Homo sapiens: one gene and its partners. The protein of the gene in region 1 purifies or fractionates together with the protein of each later gene. This does not show direct contact. Each region holds a gene or a part of one and is shown in the gene's direction. Other genes may lie near its edges.

Region 1 (4,136 bases):
CATTGCTAATAAAGGGAACACAAATTTGGAAAGACTCAAGTGAATATTTTTTCTTAATTTAAACTGAGTACTTTGTCTCTATTAAGCTAAGTTAAAAGAATTTGGGAGGACAACCTATGCTACCAAGAGAATAATTTGTTTCTAGGAATCTGAGTTAAAAGAATTTGGGAATGCAATCTCTGCTACCTGGAGAAGAAAGAAATGTCGTGGGTCCCACACCATTCTCAAGACTCTGTTTCAAAGCATTGTTTCAATACGCTGATCCAAACCCTGATAACCTGCCATCTTTTTAATAAAATAATTTATAAATTTAATGAGAATGTTTCACTTTCCATACAAAAAACAGAAAAATGCTTTGAATCAATGCACTTACTGGGATTTGGATTACTGACTGGTGTTCCTATTGATTCTTGTAGGAGTTATTAATCCTGATTGCAACACACAAGTGAACAGACAAGAGAGATAAATTTTGTGGCTTGTGGGAAATGAAGGAAAATGGGCCTCATTTAGTCTGTGAGCATACTAATTGAAATAGATGTATGAAGACTTCACCAGTGTTAAAATAACATTGTTTTTATAAATCATATGATATAAACTATATAACAATAAAATAGAATGTTAAACATGTATTTAATCATCATCATAATTTTGATTCAGAAATCTATAATTTATTAGTTATCTTAATAATGTTTAGAATTTGTTGAACATTTTACCTTATGTGAATTAAGGACAAAATATTAAAGCTATTCAGCACAAAAAAAGGGTCTTTCTGATGTGTATTTTTCATAGAATAGGGTATGAATTTGTTATTTTGTTATTTTGATTAATGTCTAAAACAAAAGATAAACACATTATGATATAACATTACTATTGATTTTAATGGCCCCTTTTGAAATAGAATTATGTCATTGTCAGAAAACATAAGCATTTATGGTATATCATTAATGAGTCACGATTTTAGTGGTTGCCTTGTGAGTAGGTCAAATTTACTAAGCTTAGATTTGTTTTCTCACATATTCTTTCGGAGCTTGTGTAGTTTCCACATTAATTTACCAGAAACAAGATACACATCTCTCTTTGAGGAGTGCCCTAACTTCCCATCATTTTGTCCAATTAAATGAATTGAAGAAATTTAATGTTTCTAAACTAGACCAACAAAGAATAATAGTTGTATGACAAGTAAATAAGCTTTGCTGGGAAGATGTTGCTTAAATGATAAAATGGTTCAGCCAACAAGTGAACCAAAAATTAAATATTAACTAAGGAAAGGTAACCATTTCTGAAGTCATTCCTAGCAGAGGACTCAGATATATATAGGATTGAAGATCTCTCAGTTAAGTCTACATGAAAAGGATGGTTTCTTGGAGCTTCCACAAACTTAAAACCATGAAACATCTATTATTGCTACTATTGTGTGTTTTTCTAGTTAAGTCCCAAGGTGTCAACGACAATGAGGAGGTGAATTTTTTAAAGCATTATTATATTATTAGTAGTATTATTAATATAAGATGTAACATAATCATATTATGTGCTTATTTTAATGAAATTAGCATTGCTTATAGTTATGAAATGGAATTGTTAACCTCTGACTTATTGTATTTAAAGAATGTTTCATAGTATTTCTTATATAAAAACAAAGTAATTTCTTGTTTTCTAGTTTATCACCTTTGTTTTCTTAAGATGAGGATGGCTTAGCTAATGTAAGATGTGTTTTTCTCACTTGCTATTCTGAGTACTGTGATTTTCATTTACTTCTAGCAATACAGGATTACAATTAAGAGGACAAGATCTGAAAATCTCACAAACTATAAAATAATAAAAGAGCAGAATTTTAAGATAAAAGAAACTGGTGGTAGGTAGATTGTTCTTTGGTGAAGGAAGGTAATATATATTGTTACTGAGATTACTATTTATAAAAATTATAACTAAGCCTAAAAGCAAAATACATCAAGTGTAATGATAGAAAATGAAATATTGCTTTTTTCAGATGAAAAGTTCAAATTAGAGTTAGTGTGTATTGTTATTATTAATAGTTATGAAACACGGTTCAGTCTAATTTATTTATTTGTAGAACAGTTTGTCCTCAACTATTATTTTTGCTGACTTATTGCTGTTAATTTGCAGTTACTAAAAATACAGAAATGCATTTAGGACAATGGATATTTAAGAAATTTAAATTTTATCATCAAACGTATCATGGCCAAATTTCTTACATATAGCATAGTATCATTAAACTAGAAATAAGAATACACAATAATATTTAAATGAAGTGATTCATTTCGGATCATTATTGAGTTTCAAGGGAACTTGAGTGTTGTACTTATCAGACTCTACATGTAAGAACATATAGTTAATCTGGTTGTGTGTGTAAAAACATATGGTTAATCTGGTTAAGTCTGGTTAATCATATTAGGTAAGAAAAATGTAAAGAATGTGTAAGACGAAATTTTTGTAAAGTACTCTGCAAAGCACTTTCACATTTCTGCTTATCAACTAAACCTCACAGAGATAGTTTAATAGTTTAGGCTTTAAAATGGATTTTGATTATTCAACAAGTGGCCTTCATAATTTCTTTAAGTGTTTTTCTTTAAGTATATACTTTCTTTAAATATTTTTTAAAATTTCCTTTTCTCTAGTAAAGCCAGACCATCCATGCTACCTCTCTAGTGGCACTCTGAAATAAAAAGAAAATAGTTTTCTCTGTTATAATTGTATTTGTAATAAGCAGATGAATCACATTTCTTAAAATTTGTTTTAGAGAGGGTAAGCTCTGACTAGGACCATGACTTCAATGTGAAATATGTATATATCCTCCGAATCTTTACATATTAAGAATGTATATAGTCAACTGGTTAAACAGGAAAATCTGGAACCAGCCTGGCTGGGTTTTAATCTTAGCACCATCCTACTAAATGTTAAATAATATTATAATCTAATGAATAAATGACAATGCAATTCCAAATAGAGTTCATCTGATGACTTCTAGACTCACAAAATTGCAAGAGAGCTCAGTTGTTGCTCAGTTGTTCCAAATCATGTCGTTTGTTAATTTGTAATTAAGCTCCAAAGGATGTATAGCTACTGACAAAAAAAAAAATGAGAATGTAGTTAATCCAAATCAAAACTTTCCTATTGCAATGCGTATTTTCTGCTTCATTATCCTTTAATATAATATTTTAAGTTAGCAAGTAATTTTAATTACAATGCACAAGCCTTGAGAATTATTTTAAATATAAGAAAATCATAATGTTTGATAAAGAAATCATGTAAGAAATTTCAAGATAATGGTTTAACAAATAATTTTGTTGATAGAAGATAAGACTAAAAGTGAAATTCGAAGTGGAGAGGACACTTAAACTGTAGTACTTGTTATGTGTGATTCCAGTAAAAATAGTAATGAGCACTTATTATTGCCAAGTACTGTTCTGAGGGTACCATATGCAATAAGTTATTTAATCCTTACAATAATCTTGTAAGGCAGATTCAAACTATCATTACACTTATTTTACAGATGAGAAAACTGGGGCACAGATAAAGCAACTTGCCCAAGGTCTCATAGCTGTAAGTCAACCCTACGGTCAAGACCTACAAGTAGCCGAGCTCCAGAGTACATTATGAGGGTCAAAGATTGTCTTATTACAAATAAATTCCAAGTAGAATCAACCTTTAATAAGTCTTTAATGTCTCTTAAATATGTTTATATAGGAGTCTAATCACCAATTCACAAAAATGAAAGTAGGGAAATGATTAACAATAATCATAGGAATCTAACAATCCAAGTGGCTTGAGAATATTCATTCTTCTTGACAGTATAGATTCTTTACAATTTCGTAAGTTCCAATGTATGTTTTAGGAATATGAGGTCATTACTATTCATAATCTGATACAGCTTTATCCTAAGGCCTCTCTTTAAAAACTACACTGCATCATAGCTTTTTTGTGCAGTTGGTCTTTCTACTGTTACTGAACAGTAAGCAACCTACAGATTCACTATCACCAACCAGCCAGTTGATGGATCTTAAGCAAATTATCAAGCTTGTGATAACCTAAATTATAAAATGAGGGTGTTGGAATAGTTACATTCCAAATCTTCTATAACACTCTGTATTATATTTCTGCCTCATTCCTTGTAGGGT
Region 2 (3,500 bases), 4.2 Mb from region 1:
CTCTGTCTCCCAGGTTCAAGCTATTCTCCTGCCTCAGCCTTCTGAGTAGCAGGGATTACAGGCGCGCGCTACAACACCCGGCTAATTTTTTCTGTATTTTTAATAGAGACGGGGTTTCACCATGTTGGCCAGGCTGGTCTCAAACTCCTGACCTTGTGATCCGCCCACCTCGGCCTCCCAAAGTGCTGGGATTACAGGCATGAGCCACCGCACCCAGCCTGTTAGTTGCTATCTTAAAGAAATATAAGTAAAAGGATCAGGTGATTATTAGCTGGAAAAATGTTATAATAATTTTGGGTATAGGAGCCAGGATCTGCCACTTTTTTTTTTTTTTTTTAACTTTTCTACAATGGGAAAGACAATTAGGGTAGTTTTAAAGGAGATTTTTATTATTTCAACTTTCATTTGGTGATCTTTGCTAGTTTACGTTAAGTCTTCCTATACCTGCAAAACTGTTCAGTTGGTATGTATAGTAGTACATAGTGGAATGAGGATAATAAGCCCAAAATCTTGTCTGGATTGTAGCATTAACTAGAGGCTTGGCCTTGACTTTGTTACTTAACTTTTCCACACGTGTTTTCTCCTGTCTAAATTACTTATGGGTTTAGACTAGATTATCTCTGAAGACCCTTGTGTACTTAATGTCTGTGAATCAAAATGACCTTAATATTGGCTGGGCATGGTAGCTCATGCTTGTAATCCCAGCACTTTGGGAGGCTGAGGTGGGAGGATCACTTGAGACCAGGAGTTGGAAACCAGCTTTGGCAACATAGTGAGATGCTGTCTCTATTAAAAAAAAAAGAAAAAAAGAAAAACCCCTAAACGACCATAATACTACCCAGCCTAAGTGACAGGGTTGTGAGTGGGAGTTGGAAGCTCAGTTACTTGTAGGAGGTAGGCTGTCACTCAGTGTATGACAAGAATAGTAGTAAACCGGAAGCTCATGCCCCACCTAATGCCACTTACATAGACAATGATAAAATTGCCAACTTATTCTGTGTTTATTGAGCTCCTGAATAGCAATAAAATGCTTATGTAAATACTAACATTGTCGTATTAGTTGGAATGTATAAAAACAGCATTATAGTACATAAATGAGCCTTCTCACATAAATCTGTGAATTGGACAGTGCTGCACATGACTTCAGCTGTATAGCTTTTATCTCTCATTATTACGATAGTGCACTTCTACAATTTAGGGTTATTTTTACAGTTGTGCGTTATTGCAGAATGTGGAGAATTGAAGGAAGGAGATGACGGGGGAATATTCCCAAAAGATGGCTCTGGCGACAGTCATCCAGATTTCCCTGAGGATGCGGATATAGATTTAAAAGATGTGAGTACTTTCAGATTAGTCAAACTTTAATTAATTTAGTAAGTGAAAATATTTAGTACTAAAAGTTTGAGCTTTTGTTTCAGTCTCTCATATGATAGAATCTAGCATTAAACCACATTACTTACTAAAATCCAACATATTTGTATTTTTTTATACAGGTAGATAAAATTTTATTAATAACAGAAGACTTAAAAAACATTGGAAATACTTTTTTCAAATCCCAGAACTGGGAGATGGCTATTAAAAAATATGCAGAAGTTTTAAGGTAATATTATTTCTAACAAATTATTTTTAAGAAATTATAAATTGAATTATAAACTAAAATTAAGAATTGCTCATTATATTTTTGCAAATTACTTGTGGAATAACCAGGTGTGTTGAAATAGTTGCATTTCCTTTTTTTTCCCCTCAGCTTGTTTTGAGAAATTTCAAAAGACAGAAGTTGAACGAGTAGTACATAATTACTCATAAGTTTTACTTACATTCACCAATTTTTAACTTTTGCTGTTTACGTTTTTACAGAACTATTTTGATAGGAAGTTGTTGATACTGTGATACTTTACCCTAAGTATTTCAGCACGTATTTCCTAAGAAACAAAGACATTCTGCATAAGTTCAATACCGTTAAAACACCCCAAAGTAATATTGATAGATAATATCAATCCATATTTAGGCTGGGCATAGTGGCTCATGCCTATAATCCCAGCACTTTGGGAGGCCAAGCTGGGCGGATCACCTGAGGTCGGGAGTTCGAGACCAGCCTGGCCAATATGGTGAAACCCCATCTCTACTAAAAATACAAAAATTAGCTGGGCTGGTGGCGCACGCCTGTAATCCCAGCTACTTGGGAGGCTGAGGCACAAGAATTACTTGAACCCAGGAGGTGGAGGTTGCAGCAAGCCGAGATTATGCCACTGCACTCCAGCCTGGGCGACAGAGTGAGATTCTGTCTCAAAAAAAAAAAAAAAAGTAATCCATATTCCAACTTCCCCAGTTGTTTCAATTTCTTAGAAAAATCAAGGGTCCAAACTAAGATTATGTGTTATATTTAGTGGTAGTATCTCTTACGTTTCCTACCTCCCCTGGTTTTTTATTCATTTGCATTTTTGTGGAGTCCAAGTCAGTTGTTTTTATAGACTTTCATCTGTATGTGTTTGTTTCCTTAAGATTAGTTTGAGGTGAAATATTTTGGCAAGAAGACTTAGGTGTTGTTTTGTATTACCTATGATATCACATCCTGAAGACACATTTCGCTTTGGCCTGTTTGAGTTCACACACATGGTTAAAGTAGTGTCAGCCACAAGCATTTGTTAGTCTGAGGTGGTATCGTGAAATTGTATGAATTTCTAGTCCCCAACAACTTTTCACACAGTGGATCTTAGCATCATTGAAAATCCATGCCTGAATCTGTTATACTGAACTTCTAAGTTTATCATCGTACAGTTATTAACTAGCATTCTTCTGTTTGCAAGAGCCTCCCGCATATTTTTTAAGTATCACTATAGACCTGTGGATATTTTTCTTTTCTTTTTTTTTCCTTTTATAGAAACAAGGCCTCCTTTATATTGCCCAGGCTGGTCTGGAACTTTTGGGCCCAAGCAATCCTCCCTCCTCACCTTCCCAAGTAGCAGGGACTAGAGGATATCTTATGGGTAGTTTTCAATTCCGTTTGTTAGTACGCTATTATTGTCATTCTTTTTCATGCCCAAAGGGTTCCAAATTTGTTCAGTGGAAGGCCCCTTTCCTTTGGCATGTTCCTATTAGTCTGCGAGCACTTGCTTGCTCTAAGCTCATCTTACCTTACTTTCACATCTGATATGGCAGTTTCTCCAAGGACCTCTGATTTCTTTTAGAGAAAGAAAACTTTAGAAACCAAATTCTGGGGGCCAGGTGTGCTCAGTTTTGGGGCCCTTTTCAGGGACAATGCAAAATCAACACAATAGAGTTCTCCTTCATCTTTCCTCTACTGAATTCCCTTCTCCTATTATGAGAATCCTGGTTCCAAACATAATTATGTTGGAAAGTACATAGTGGGGACCTGAGTTTTAAAAATAGAAAAGTGTTACTAGTGCATAATTAGATTTGGGAATTGCTCTTAAATTGGCCTCTTTGAACACTTTGGGGAACAAAAACAATTTTTTTTAAGCCTTCTTAAAAATTTTAAA
Region 3 (3,500 bases), on another chromosome or scaffold:
GTGGAGCCCCATTGCTGAGCTTACAACGTCACTCTGCTCTCAGCTCCCACGGCCTAACCATGACCATCCTCCCTGCAGGCATTGGTTCCTGTCACCATTGAAGTAGAGGTGCCCTTTGACCTTCACCGTTACGTTATTGGGCAGAAAGGAAGTGGGATCCGCAAGATGATGGATGAGTTTGAGGTAGACCCCTTTCCCGGGAGGCCATGTCACAGGAGTGGCCTGTCGCATCCTCTCCCGAGTGCCAGTGTCCTTTCTCAACTTCCTGTTGACTCTGCCTCCTCCTGCTCGGACTGGGCACTGACTTCCCTTCACGGCGGGTGGCCTTCCCTCTCACCACTTCTGGGTCCCAGGGCCAATGGACTCTTTCCTGTTCTCTGGGGTCCTGAACGTCAAGTCAGCCCCCTCTTCACGTAGGTGAACATACATGTCCCGGCACCTGAGCTGCAGTCTGACATCATCGCCATCACGGGCCTCGCTGCAAATTTGGACCGGGCCAAGGCTGGACTGCTGGAGCGTGTGAAGGAGCTACAGGCCGAGCAGGAGGACCGGGTGAGCAGGAGGTGGCCGGGGCACTGCCCAGAGCCATGGTGCTCAGCTTTGGGCACATGTCAGAATCTAGGGAAGTTCTTCAGGATCCCAGCATCCCAGCGACATCTGGCTGGAGGTGAGATGCAGGCAGTGCCAGGACGCAGTCAGCATCCAGGGGTCTTGCTGTGGAACTAGCCAAGAGCATGGCACCTTTCTCTTTTTCATAAAAAAGTGACAAAGTTGGACTTCCGTGTAAATTTGCAGTTTCTCTCAAAACCAAATCAGAGTGGTACCTCAGACCTACAAGAAAGGTCAAGGTTGCGAGAGGCCCCCAAGCATGTGCTATGCAGTGAGGACGAGCATCGGGGACCCCCACTAACCTCTAGCACAGGGTGGTCAAAGGGCGAATGACTTCCTGGTAAGCAGGGATGAAACCCCCCCAACCTCTGGCAAGGCTGACGTTTGAAGGATTGTATGAGCGGAGCGCTGCAGACGCCCAGCCTCTGGCAGGGCTGACATTTGGAGGATTGTGTGAGCAGAGTGCTGCAGACAGGAGCAGGGGTTCTGGAACTTGGAGCAGACTGTGCTGGGGTGCTGGTTTGCTAAGGGGGTTGGCTTTCCACTCCTCCCGTGAGCACGTCGAGTCTGGTGAATGGGGTGGAGCTCGTGAACCTCACATGGTGTCAGTGTACCCCTGCGTGGACTCTGGGTTGTCTCCTGCAGCCAGGTCATACCTGTAGCCTTTGGCCATGGGTGTTCAGGGGCTGTGGCTGCCCCCTCTTCTTGGTCTGCATCTGCCCCAGTCCTAAAAAGATCCAGAGCATTTCTGTGCGTATCCATCAGATCCCTGTTTGACAAATGAGGAGAGCGGGGCCCCAAGCTCGTGACTCACTGCCTAGCTCTGTCAGTTCCTGAGCACGATCCTCGCAAGTGGTCCCAAGCCCTCTTTTGAAGGATTTATAGACCTCCTTGTGGAGCAGCCAAGTTCCCTGGTTCTCATTATTAGCAGATAATGGAAGGTGGCAGAGGTCGGACCAGAGAGATGGCGGACCATTCCGGACCACGGGTTACAGAACACTGCAGCATCTCCAGTGTCCTATGACCAGGGTGGAAGGGGAATGGAGTCACAGGGTGGATCAGCTCAATCTTTGCCTCATTCTTGCTCCTTTCATTTGTAGGCTTTAAGGAGTTTTAAGCTGAGTGTCACTGTAGACCCCAAATACCATCCCAAGATTATCGGGAGAAAGGGGGCAGTAATTACCCAAATCCGGTTGGAGCATGACGTGAACATCCAGTTTCCTGATAAGGACGATGGGAACCAGGTGAGAGCCTCGGTTGGAGCGTGTCGGGGGCAGAGGTGCTTGTTGACCTTTCCTGTGACTTGGGAGCAGTAACCAGATGTGCCTAGATGGGGGTTCGAGGGCCAAGTTGAGAGTGGCAAGTCTCTCAGGACCTAATTCTGGCTTGAGGTTTGGGCTGTGTCTCGGTACTTGCCAGATGGGTGAGGTCTCTGGCACTATGTATCATCTGGGGCCTGGAGCATTTTCTCCTGCGTCTCCTTCCAGAAAATGAGCAGGAGCTCCAGCTGGGTCCTTGATCAGTGGCGCCTCCAGGTGTAGCTCATTCACCTGTCACCCGGGCCTCTCTGAGGCTCCCAAGGGCTCTCATTCACCTGTCACCTGGGCCTCTTGGGGTCAGGTGGACATTTCTCTGCAGCCCCAGCTGCAAACACCGTTGTGCTTGCCAGATGGTCCTTAGTAAACTCTTGTTGTTACTTCCTCCAAATTGCAGTGCCACCCCCCTGCCACTGGCCCTCATGGCCTCCTGCTTCACTCAGAACAAAATGAAAGGCAGCCCCATCCCCTCTCTGGGCCCTGCCACCTGGCATGCAGGGCAGCCTCACCCAACACCCCCTCTTGCACACACTTCCCAGGCTTGGTCTTTCCTGGCTCTGGCATCCTGCTGGGGTGTCTGCTTCCTAGGCGTGTCCAGCACAGCTTTGCCCACAGTGGGAGACTAGCAAGCCTTGGTGGCCACAGTTGTGCTGGTTTCCAGAAACAGCAAACCCCCTGGCAGCAGAGCCCCTCCACGCCCCTCGCTCCCACTGTGGATGTGCCGCCCAGGGTTTTCCGCTGCTTCCCCTTCCCCTTCCCCTTCTTCCTCCCCAGCTTCTTGTTCCCTTTTGGATCTTTGAGTCACACACACACCAGCCAGGCCAGGAGGGCCCTCCTGCACCCTGCCTCCTCCAGCTCCCACGTCCTCTTCCCTCCCCACATACATTTTTTAATTTTTAGTCTTGATCTTGAGAGTTTAGTTCTTTTTTTTGAGAGAGATAGTCTTTGTCTTGTTGCCCCAGGTGGAGTGCAGTGGCGCGATCTCGGCTCACTGTAACCTCTGCCTCCCGGGTTGAAGTGATTCTCGTGCCTCAACCTCCCAAGTAGCTGGGACTACAGCTGTGAGCCACCGCTCCCAGCCCAAGAGTTTAGCTCTTTTAAGCCCCTCACCCTTATTGCCTTTTATTTCCCTCTACTATTCTATATAATTATCAATCTTAAAAGTCATTATAGGTGAGTCACAGTGGCTCACGCCTGTAATCCCAACACTTTTGGAGGCCGAGGCGGGTGGATCCCCTGAGGTCAGGAGTTCAAGGCCAACCTGACCAACATGGCGAAAGCCTGTCTCTACTAAAAATATGAAAATTAGCCAGGCGTGGTCGCGTGCACCTGTAATCCCAGCTACTCGGGAGACTGAGACGTGAGAATCGCTTGAACGCAGGAGGCGGAGGCTGCAGTGAGCTGAGATCATGCCATTGCACTCCAGCCTGGGCGACAGAGTGAGACTCTGTCTTTAAAAAAAAAAAAAAAAAGTCATTGTTTAGCAATTAGACTATTCCATCTAATACACCATGAGCCAAGTGGGGTGGAGCAGTCATTTCTTCACAGGCAGCTTTTTCCTGTGAGCTGTGCTTC
Region 4 (3,500 bases), on another chromosome or scaffold:
TTTTTTAAAATTGGGCTCTCTGTTACATAGTTTTTAAAAATTGATACGTCATAGCTGTACATTGTCTGCTGTTGTGGTGCCTGTATCCCCCACCACCTATATATATTTATAATAGTTGTACATATTTTAGGGGTACATGTGATATTTGATACCTTTATACAGCGTGTAATGATCAAATCAGGGTAATTAGGGTATCTGTCACCTCAAACGTTTATCTTTGTGTTGAGAAGATTACAATTCTTCTAGCTATTTTGAAATATAGAGTAAATCATTGTTAAATATAATTTCCTTATTGTACTCTCGAATACTAGAACTTATCGACCTGTATTTTTATACCCCTTAACCAACTTCTCCTCATCCCCTTGTAGTTTTTTTTTAAATTAACAGGCTTTTATTTTTTAGAGCAGTTTTAGGTTTCCAGAAAAAGTAAGCAGAAAGAATAGAGTTCCCTCTCCCCAGTTCAGATTCCCCTATGAATAACATCTTGTTTTGGAATGATACATTTGTAACAATTGAACCAGCATTGATACATTATTATTAACGCAAGTCCTTAGTTTACATTAGGGTTTACTCTTTGTATTCTACAGTTTTATGGTTTTTCCCAAATACATGTCAAGTATCTACTGTTAAAGTATCATACAGAATGGTTTTACTGGCCTAACATCCTTTGTGCTCCACCTATTCATCCTTCCTCCCCCCACTTCCCCAACCCCAGGTAACCACTGATCTTTTTAATCGTTTTTTTACTCTGCGTTTTTCACTTAACATTATATCACAAAAATTTCCCAGGGCATATTAAGTAGTCTCCAAAAACCATAGTTTTGAAATTACGGTTTTTGGAGAATACTTGGGATGCTGAGGCGGGAAGATTGCATGAGTCCAAGAGTTCAAGGTTATTGTGAGGTATTGATTGCTCCACTGTACTCCAGCCTGGGTGGCAGAGCAAGACCCTGTCTCAAAAAAACAAACAAAAAAGATTACCAATTTGGTAAACAAATGATAGTGTTTCAGAGTTTTCTTTTGTATCTGTCAGATTAATTTGGGGAAATACTGTTCAGATCCTTTGCCTTTTTCTGTTGAGTCATTAGTCTTATTATTAATATATTGTATATCTTTTCTTACAGATCCTTTTATCCTGCCACACCAGCAGGTTGATAAAGGAGCCATCAAATTTGTACTCAGTGGAGCAAATATCATGTGTCCAGGCTTAACTTCTCCTGGAGCTAAGCTTTACCCTGCTGCAGTAGATACCATTGTTGTATCCTTCCCAGGCTAAAACTGCTGAAAAATGTATTCATTGTGCTCTTATCATTACTGCGAAAGGTGTACCATCCAAGAGAACATTAGATGTACTTTTTTGAAGGTTACTGTTACTCTTATCTCATGCCTTTCTGGTTACATTTGAAGTTGTACAAAGTAATTTTATTTGTTGCTACTAAATTATCTCATCTTAGGTCGTTTCTTAGAAGTTAAATGAGAACAAGTTACAGAAGAGTCTCAGCTGCATTTCAGCCCAGTCAGGGCCTACTGTTATCAGACTTAGGACACAATAGGGAATTCTTGATTACTAGGGGAAAGGATATAGATGATATAATTGGATCAGCTTTTTGGATATCAACTTGCCACTGTAATGTTCATTTTGACTTACTGACATACGTTGGAGTGAAAGCTCTCAAAAGGGAAAAGAATTTAGGCACCAGGTATAGGTATCTCTTACCAAGCAACAATTTTGTGTTAGGAGTGAATAGTGGGAAATATTGGCAACCTCCAACTTTTATTTTGAAAATTAATTATTTGAAAAGTTGAGTTTGGGGGCCTCAGAGCACGTTTTCTCAAAGAGAAATGTCAGAGTCCCAGATGGTCCTTAAAGATCGATTCAACTCATGACATAGCTGAATAATTCTGCATTATTTCCATTTCTACCATGCTGTTTCAGCTATTTTCTGGATTAAATAGATTTTTGTGACTATTCTGGACAGGAGAACATCTTCTCCTTTATCATAGCTAAAGTAGCCATTTGCCTCGGGTATAGAAAAGGAATGGTACTTGGTGGGAATAGGGAAACTACTTTTAGAGTGTGTTTATCTTATTTTAGTTTTTGAGATGGAGTCTCGCTCTGTCGTCCAAGCTGGAGTGCAGTGGCACGATCTTGTCTCACTGCAACATCTGCCTCCTGGGTTCAAGCAATTCTCCTGCCTCAGCCCCTCGAGTAGCTGAGGTTACAGGCACCCACTACCACGCCCGGCTCATTTTTGTATTTTTAGTAGAGACAGGGTTTCACCATGTTGGTCAGGCTAGTCTCAAACTCCTGACCTCAGGTGATCCACCCGCTTTGGCCTCCCAAAGTGCTGGGATTACAGGTGTGAGCCACCACACCTGGCCAGGGGTGTGTTTAAGAAGAATAAGAAAAAAAAATGATATTCTCTGTTGGGGCAGTTATAGCGAAGAGGTAGTATAAGTAGTATGTTTATATTCTAGGAACAGCTTATGTTGACATGCTTTTTGCCTAATAGGTGCTCACATATTTGGAACACTGAGTGAATTGAAAATCAAGGGAGAAAAGTGAGGACGGGTTTTTTGTTGTTGTTGTTTGTTTTTAATATTTATTAAGTGTTGGTAAATTTATAGTTCTGGAGTTAACCTTAAATGGAAAATTTCCTTAGTACCTAGTCTTTACTTTTAAAAATAATTTTTATTTTGAAACAGTTACAGATTTAGAGAAAGTTGTTAAAGAAAATGGTACAGAGAGGTCTTGTGTACCCTGAATCTTGACTTTTTAAAATATGTACTGCAGTGTTTAACATTCCAGAAACTTCATATGTTAACCAAGACCACTCTGGTTTTTCTAGAAAGGTTGAAACTGTTATATCAGGCTCTTAAAGATAGACTGGGAATTTACCTATTATTTTAAAACAGCCTTTACATAAAACCACCATTCAGGCCGGGTGTGGTGGCTCATGCCTGTAATCCCAGCACTTTAGGAGGCTGAGGCGGGCAGATCACCTGAGGTCAGGAGTTCGAGACAAGCCTGGCCAACATGACGAAACCCTGTCTGTACTAAAAATACAAAAATTAGCTGGGTGGGGTGGCATGCGCCTGTAATCCCATCTACTAGGGAGGTTGAGGCAGGAGAATTGCTTGAACTCAGGAGGCAGAAGTTGCAGTGAGCTGAGATCATGCCACTGCACTCCAGCCGGGTGACAAAGCAAGACTCCATCTCAAAAAAACAAACGGCCGGCTATGGTGGCTCACGCCTATAATGCCACCACTTTGGGAGGCTGAGGCAGGCGGATCATGAGGTCAGGAGTTCAAGACCAGCCTGGCCAACATGGTGAAATCCCATCTCTACTAAAAATACAAAAATTAGCTGGGTGTGGTGGCACACGCCTGTAGCACCAGCTACTCGGGAGGCTGAGGCAGGAGAATTGCTTGAACCCGGGAGGCAGAGGTTGCAATGAGCCAAGACTGCGCCATTGCACTCCAGCCTGGGCAACAGAGTG

What was found. The genes of interacting proteins can lie anywhere in the genome.
Region 2: the proteins of FGB (region 1) and PPID purify together in Homo sapiens (affinity purification with mass spectrometry; 2 studies listed by BioGRID and IntAct, with this or other methods). This does not show direct contact.
Region 3: the proteins of FGB (region 1) and HDLBP purify together in Homo sapiens (affinity purification with mass spectrometry; 2 studies listed by BioGRID and IntAct, with this or other methods). This does not show direct contact.
Region 4: the proteins of FGB (region 1) and MCTS1 purify together in Homo sapiens (affinity purification with mass spectrometry; 2 studies listed by BioGRID and IntAct, with this or other methods). This does not show direct contact.

What each region holds. Positions count from the first base shown.
Region 1 is NC_000004.12:154,561,675-154,565,810, forward strand, and holds the start of FGB (fibrinogen beta chain isoform 1 preproprotein), read left to right. Parts: upstream 1-1,336; 5' UTR 1,337-1,344; coding exon 1,345-1,458; intron 1,459-4,133; coding exon 4,134-4,136. UniProt on the Homo sapiens protein: Cleaved by the protease thrombin to yield monomers which, together with fibrinogen alpha (FGA) and fibrinogen gamma (FGG), polymerize to form an insoluble fibrin matrix. Fibrin has a major function in hemostasis as one of the primary components of blood clots.
Region 2 is NC_000004.12:158,713,397-158,716,896, reverse strand, and holds part of PPID (peptidyl-prolyl cis-trans isomerase D), read left to right. Parts: intron 1-1,212; coding exon 1,213-1,335; intron 1,336-1,493; coding exon 1,494-1,600; intron 1,601-3,500. UniProt on the Homo sapiens protein: PPIase that catalyzes the cis-trans isomerization of proline imidic peptide bonds in oligopeptides and may therefore assist protein folding. Proposed to act as a co-chaperone in HSP90 complexes such as in unligated steroid receptors heterocomplexes.
Region 3 is NC_000002.12:241,232,173-241,235,672, reverse strand, and holds part of HDLBP (vigilin), read left to right. Parts: intron 1-78; coding exon 79-183; intron 184-417; coding exon 418-552; intron 553-1,709; coding exon 1,710-1,853; intron 1,854-3,500. UniProt on the Homo sapiens protein: Appears to play a role in cell sterol metabolism. It may function to protect cells from over-accumulation of cholesterol.
Region 4 is NC_000023.11:120,607,101-120,610,600, forward strand, and holds part of MCTS1 (malignant T-cell-amplified sequence 1), read left to right. Parts: intron 1-1,124; coding exon 1,125-1,258; intron 1,259-3,500. UniProt on the Homo sapiens protein: Translation regulator forming a complex with DENR to promote translation reinitiation.